2 linked regions of the Homo sapiens genome follow. The protein of the gene in region 1 purifies or fractionates together with the protein of each later gene. This does not show direct contact. Each region holds a gene or a part of one and is shown on either strand. Other genes may lie near its edges. The genes, in order: USP24 and WWC1.

Region 1 (3,500 bases):
GGCGGACGTTGCAGTGAGCCAAGATCACACCACTGCACTCCAGCCTGGGTGAAAGAGCAAAACTCCATCTTAAAAAAACAAAACAAAACAAAAAAAACCCAATAATGTCACCTACTATCAATATGAGCTTAACGAAAATTTTTATGTCAGTTGTGACTGAAAAATGTGATAACACTAAACAATAAAAATTCCTATGATAAAGAAAATGAAAAATACAAGCTTAAAAAAGGAAGTAAAACTCCCTAGAAAAAAAAGGGAGGAAAAAAACATTTACTCTTTTGAAAATGAAGCACAACTCTCTTAGTCGTACCTCTGCAATCTAGTATCATGACTGAAATGTCCTCACATCTGAATTTTCCAGGTGTCTGAAGCCTACTTCTTTATCCATCCAACTTCTTCTTTTTTTTTCTTTTTAAAAGGAAAACCTTTCTAAAATACATTAAACATTCCTGACCCTTCTTAAGCAGACCACACTGGAACCTCTTCTTGACTGTGACATCATTGAAAACACAGTTATCCTCTCAGGGCCATGAAACACATAATAAAGCTGTTTCAAATCACCCTACACAAATCGGCTAGTGTGATTTGGTTGAGTCGGCTTTTAAAGCTTTCCTGTTCCCTCCTTGACCACTAAGCTGCTACTGTCACTTCTCACTATTGTCAAATGAGCTTGTCTCTAAGAGCTCATCACCTTGTGTTTAGATTGCCATAAAACCATTCTAATTTGATAGGAAACCTAATATTGAAACTTGTTTGAACTGTATTTTTTGTTAAGTTTAAACACAAATGAAAGAAATGCATGAGCTTTAGTGCACTTAGAGCGCTTAGTGAGTGGAGTGCATGAGCTTTAATGCATGTACGAAGGTGTTCTGAAATGGTTCCATCTTATGTGTTTACTTCTTATTTCTCTCTGTGGTTCCATATAAGGAAAATTTCCAGGAAAACTGAACTCCAGATTTCAGATTCTACTAAATCTTTTTTAACATTTTCTTATTAAAAGTAAAAAACGCCCTCCTTCACACTCAGATCAAGTAAATGGTATATGATATTGTAGGCAGTAAGTATAAAAATACTTAAGTATATGGACATATTTTTCTATTAATGTTGAAACCTTTTCCTCAAATTGCTAAAACATTACAACATTTGCTTTTCTAACATTGAAATTGTTTTCAAAATTTAAGCTAACAATATTATTATGCTGTATAAAGCTGTCACAACCTACTATGATTTCACTAAAACCACACTCACAGACACACGAAAGGTACTCTCTTCATGCCAAATTACATTCATTCTAAAAGTGAATGGGCAGGTAATTACAAGGTGAGACTCCAACCATTAGATTAACTCACAGACCTAATTCCCAAAGGAGATATATATACATATACTGGATCAGAAAGAAATTCTTATTTAAAAATTAGGCCATGCTGATTCATCTTTAATTCCCTATTTTTATTTCATCTACTTTCAACTGATTTGGGAAATTATTTCATTTTTTTACTCTAAAGCCTTTAAAGGGCCTTTTTTTATTTACCAAATCACAGTAATTCATAAACCACAGGTCATGTACCAAATCACTAATAGTTAACTAAAAGCTACTCATTTGATATTTACTCCACACTCATACTAGGGTTGTTGTATTTTAGGAAAAGAATAACATGAATTTTACCATAAACCTTAATTATACACATTGACAGTATTACAATTTTAATCCATTTATAATTACCACTTACTACCAAAGGGGAACAAGAGAAATAGGAATGAGGTAAGTTAAGGAACTACAAATTAATATGCTTCTTATTTTTATGTGACTTAGATATATTAACAGCAGGACCAACTTTGGGGCTCTAAACTTAAAAAAACAAAAAAGCAATGAAATCTTGAAAGTACTCCTGACAAAACAATACCTCCAGAAAGAACATCCACATTAAAACAGGAACAAAACAAGGAGTTCACAATGTTTATCAGATCACAGTATTAAATGTCACTTCTGGGAATATTAATTAACAGCACTAGACAGCTAAGAAAGGTATTTCCTCAGTTAATATGAAATCTCCTTCCAAAAACTTCCATTTTAGTATTTTCTAAAGACAAACTTAATGAATAAGGTATTCATTATAGTATTAATGTTTGATGGTATTCCTTATGGATAAGGTACATTTCATAATTGTTAAGTTCTGTGAGATGCACAGGATACCTGGTTCAGATTTCTACTGATCCCCTGGAGAGATTACAAAGGCCCAACTCTTCCTGTTGTGTAGAGAACAGAACCAATTGGTACGCACTTGGCAGGCCAGAGTTTACATTAGCCATGCAGTAAAGAGTGAAGAATTCTGACAGGGGGGTGGTTAAAAATCAGAATAAGTTATTTAGAGCAGCTGTGAGAGCTCACTCTCTTTAATAATAGAACAGACTCTTATGTGCCGTGGAATGATTTTGAAGTAATGCTATTCAAAATCAAAACTGGACAGCTTCTCAAAGTCCCTTCCAGACCCAGAGACCAAGAACATTTACATCCAACAATACTAGTGAGAACCAAACACATCTCTTCTGCAAAACACTATCTTTACTTAATTGGAGGATATTAACAAGGTGGCTTTCTATGCAGTTGTGTGTTTTGCTAGATATCTGGGTCTTTTTTATCTGCATTCTCCTTGCTTCTACTGAACCGGAAGTTAACAGCTTTCACTGTTCAAATATTAATTTTTAAACCAAACCCTAATTACAGCAGGGCCTCAAACTGATTTACCTAACTAGCTACATGACCTTGGACAGTCTTTTCTTGTAAAATGAGAGGCTTGGACTAAGACCCACTAGAATGTAAACACCACGTTCTGTTCAACACTCTACTCCCTGCCCCTGGGACAGGAAGGCATTAAGAGAAAACCATTGCTATCCCCAAACTACAAATATAAAAAAACTTAAGTCATTTCTTTCTTTTCTAATCAATTAGATTTTATTCTGTTTTTCCCATTTTTAAAGAAGACAATGACACTGAAATGTCCTGTGCAGCAAATAGAAATGTATATAATTTAAAATAAGGTACTCAGTTTTTAGAAATAAAAAGGATTAACTATATAATAGCTGACAATCTTCACCCAGTTTTTTTACTCTTCTTCCTTCCCTTTAACCCATTACTGTGTCCCATTCCTTTTTCCTTTGAAAGAGAGCCCGAAAGAGTGCAGGACTTCAAGCAAAAGGGCCTGAGTACTAGCCCCACCTCTTCTATTAACTGACTCTGTGGGGACAAGCCACTTCCCCTTTGGGGCCCGAAAGGGTGCATCTGTTAAACAAGGGAGCTGCACTAATTATTAATTTCTAAAGTATGCTTCTTTTTAAAAAATCTGATTCACCTTATATTCTACCCATTATTCGATTCTTAATGGTTGGTGCTCACCACATCATTGCACAGTAGCCTTAAAATATGTCTTTCCCTCATTATTTCTCCTTACTATCCATACTGTTACCAAACAAATTTAATCCTAAAACCATGAGTTGAGCAG
Region 2 (4,024 bases), on another chromosome or scaffold:
GGAAGGCGGACAAAACGGAAGGAAGACAAGATGGGATGCTTGGGTCAATTTCAGTCTTCTGCCCACACAGACAGTGCCAGGCTGAATAGCCTCCTCCATAGCTCACTGGTACTCATGCAGGGGCATCTGTGGGATAATGCCTAGAAGTGAAGGGTCTGGACCAAAGGACAAATGCATCTGGAATTTTGTTCGATTTGTCAAAGTTCCTTCCAGTGTATAGGGGCCTGATTCCCCAGATTCCTCACTTCTACAAACTCTCATCCACTGTTGTTTGCTTAGGGATTTCAGCAGCTGTTTAGTCCAACATTTTAGCCCCAGACATGGGCTGACCCAAGATTTCCTGCGGTTCTGTCTCCCTCTAGGAATATCCGCGTGGCTGTCCTTCCTTGCTCTGAAAGCACAACCTGCCTGTTCCGGACCCGGCCTCTGGACGCCTCAGACACTCTAGTGTTCAATGAGGTGTTCTGGGTATCCATGTCCTATCCAGCCCTTCACCAGAAGACCTTAAGAGTCGATGTCTGTACCACCGACAGGAGCCATCTGGAAGAGTGCCTGGTAAGGGCCGTGTCTGGCTGGCTGGCTGGCTGGCTGGCTGGCTGGCTGGCTGGCTGGCTGACCGGCCTTCTGTGTTTATGGGGATTGGTCTACCCTGAGCTTCAGGAAGAAGGTTCGAAGGAGACGCAGGTTGTGCTATCAATCAGGCTCATCTTGGATTCTAGGCAGCGAGGCTTCCACAGGTGAATGTTGTTCTCAGACTTAGGGTGGGAGGGAAGGAGCTCTTTCACAAGAGGAAGAGTAATGGACCTGAAAGTGCCTTTTAAAACTGCCAGAACCTGGAAAAAGCCACATACTGCAGCTTTACTATACAGCATGAGAGATTAGATAAGAAGCACAGACTATGGCTGTGTGGTGGCTTATATCTGTAATCCCAACCCTTTGGGAGGCCAAGGCCAGAGGATCACTCAAGTGCAGGAGTTCGAAAGCAGCCTGGGCAACACAGCAAGACCCCATCTCTACAAAAAATAAAATTAGCCAGGCATAGTGGTGCATGCTTGTAGTCCTAGCTACTCTGGAGGTTGAGATGGGAGGATCCCTTGAGCTGCAATGAGCTGATCATGCCGCAGCATTCTGGCCTGGGCAACAGCAGAACCCTGTGTCAAAAAAAAAAAAAAAAAAAGCACAGAGTAATGAAAGCAAACACATAGGCATTCACATCCCACCTTTACCACTTGCTGTATAGCTGGATGACCTTGGGCAAGGTACTTAACATCTCTGATCCTCATTTTTCTTATCCCTAAAATGCAAATGATAATGCCTCCATCATGCCCACTGGAAGAATCTTTATAAGGATTGAGATAGCACCCGTAAAACACCTATTCAAGTGTCTGATCCACAGTGGGTTCTCGTTTAGTGGGGCCATTGCCAGCCTCCTCCCTGAAACTGACCTTCTCCGGCTTCCATCTCTCACTGCATTGGCAGGAGTCAGGACTGGGGATGAAGTAGCCCAAGTACATTTTGTCCTAAGAGACAGGCAGACCCAAGTGCAGACAGATACTCAGCTTTCCCATCTGTAGAAGGGGGATTTATATAATAGCTAACTCGGGCTTGTGATGTACAAGTGAATTAGAAGAAGTAAAGGGCTTTGTTAACCCTGATGCCATTTAGTGTTAGAATATTTTAATGATAACTCAACTGTGGGCACAAAGGAGCCCAAGTGTGGGCATTATACCTAGAAGGTCGCTCCACTCATGCTCAGATCTGTACTGGGAGCTTGTTGTGTCCCCACCCCTGTGTCTGGGGCTGGGGATTCAATGGGGAACCAAACAGACAAGGTGCCAGCATTGATGGCTAAGATGTAAACAAACTGTGAGGAGGGCCGTGTTGGAAATGGATGGGTTGAAGTGATGGAGGAAAATGTGGGGTATGTGCAAAGGGGAAAAACAAGATGTATACACCTCTCCGAGCCTCTCCTGCCTCCATTTCTGGAAGCTGGAATGTAGAGCCTCTCACTGCCTTCTTGGAGGGCTCGCCCCTTTCTCCTGCTGTAAATCACAGACCTTTGCCCAGAGAAGGGAATCTCTTTGCTCTCCATCCTTGCCTTGATCTGCATGCGCTATAAAACCCTTCTCTATCATGGCATTGTGGGGCCACATCCTTGGATTGTGGCCTGGGGCTGTCACCAGCCTTGCCCTTCCAGCTGTGTCTCCTCACAGTCTTCAATTCTTAGTCTCAGTTCCCTTATCTGTAAAATCTGGCTCATACTGCCTTCCTGGAGGTGGTTCTCTGAAGACTAACTAAGGCGCTGAAGCAGCGCTTCAAACTGTGCCATGCACACAAGTTACCTGGAGCTCTGGCTAAATGCAGATTCTGATTCAGCAAGTCTGGAGCAGAACCTGAGATTCTGCATTTCTAATAAGCTCCCAGGTGAGGCCAATGCTGCTGGTTCCTGGATCACACTTTGGGTAGCAAGAATGTAGAGCAGCAAAGTGTTTGCAGTTTGTGCTCACTGGATATCGGTTCCCATCTCTCCTTCTTAGCTGGGTACAACACAGCATCACTGCTATTGATGTTGTTACTGACAATAATGCAGTAGTTAATACCAGTAGGTTGCAGTTTATATGGCAGGCACTGAGTTAAGCTCTTTACATGCATTATCTGTTTTTTTTATTTTAGACTGAGTCCTGCTCTCAGTCTCTGGAGTGCAGTGGCGTGATCTTGGCTCACTGAAACCTTCACCTCCTAGATTCAAGCAATTCTCCTGCCTTAGACTCCAGAGTAGCTGGGACTACAAGCGCCCACCACCACACCCGGCTAATTTTTGTATTTTTAGTAGAGGCGGGGTTTTGCCATGTTGGCCAGGCTGATCTTGAACTCCTGACCTCAAGTGATCCGCCTGTCTCCACCTCCCAAAGTTCTGGGATTACAGGTGTGAGCCACCACCCCAGCCCATTATCTCTATTGATCCTCACTCCAACCTTGCAAAATAGGTAGCGTATTCCAGTGGAGAAACTGAGGCACAAAGAGGTGAAAGACCTTTCCTGTCACAGTTAGGAAAGTGGCAGAAGCCGTATTTGAACCCCAGCAGGTCTCCCTCTGAAGTCCACACACGTCAGCGCCTCTGTGTTGTCTCTTTGCCAGCACAGGGCTCCCTGGAGCCCAGAGATGGGGGTGGTGACTTGAAGGGGTTGGCAAGCCTGGGCTCCTCCAGCGAAGCATTCCCTTGGCCCTGGGCATTCCTAAGCGAGAAGAGGCTCAATCCTATTTTCTTCTCCTAATTGGATGCCTTTTATTCCTCCTTCCTAATTGAAGTCTGGTCATTGCTGGTTGCCATGGCAGCAGCCAAAGCGCTCATCTCACTGTGGCTTGTCTCTGCCTGCGGCCAATGGGAAACCTCCTTTCCCATATACGGTGGGGACATGGAGTGTCAGGCTGTCGTATTCTGGTGGCTGGAGGAGGAGAGGAAGTGAGATGGGAGGAAAAAGGCCTGTCCTCTCCCACGCAGAGACTCCGGACAGCAGGATGTGTGGAATCCCCAGTCTGTTTTCAGCCAGGCAGCAACAGCATCTGTACTGAGTTGAGTCTATGTGTCTACCAGTGGGCTAAGAACTTCATGTGCAGTATCTCATTTAATCTTCGTGATGGCCCCAGGAAGATAAGGGATCAAGGCCCAGAAAGGCTAAGTAAGCTGCCAGGTCATCCAAGGAGAAAATGGCAAAGCCTGGATTTGAACAGAGACTCCAGCTTCCTTATGTGTAGCCATCTCACCATGCTACTTCTCAGGGGGTTACTATGAGTGTCTCTCATGTCCCCAGACCCAGATTACAGGTTTGGAGGAATACACAGCCCACCTTCCCAATATCGCAGGCAACAGTTCCACCAAATGCCCTGCATGGCATCACAGGGAGCCTAGTTGCCCACTGCTCTACTGCTGAGCTCAATGCCACCCAGCCCGGGCTCTCTCGAGCTAGCCTGCTTCTCAGGCCCCACTGACGTCCCATGGTTCACCATTACAACCGTTCCCTTG

Evidence for each region.
Region 2: the proteins of USP24 (region 1) and WWC1 purify together in Homo sapiens (co-immunoprecipitation; one large-scale study listed by IntAct). This does not show direct contact.

Annotation. Positions count from the first base shown.
Region 1 is NC_000001.11:55,208,865-55,212,364, forward strand, and holds part of USP24 (ubiquitin carboxyl-terminal hydrolase 24), read right to left. Parts: intron 1-3,500. UniProt on the Homo sapiens protein: Ubiquitin-specific protease that regulates cell survival in various contexts through modulating the protein stability of some of its substrates including DDB2, MCL1 or TP53.
Region 2 is NC_000005.10:168,430,890-168,434,913, forward strand, and holds part of WWC1 (protein KIBRA), read left to right. Parts: intron 1-362; coding exon 363-555; intron 556-4,024. UniProt on the Homo sapiens protein: Regulator of the Hippo signaling pathway, also known as the Salvador-Warts-Hippo (SWH) pathway.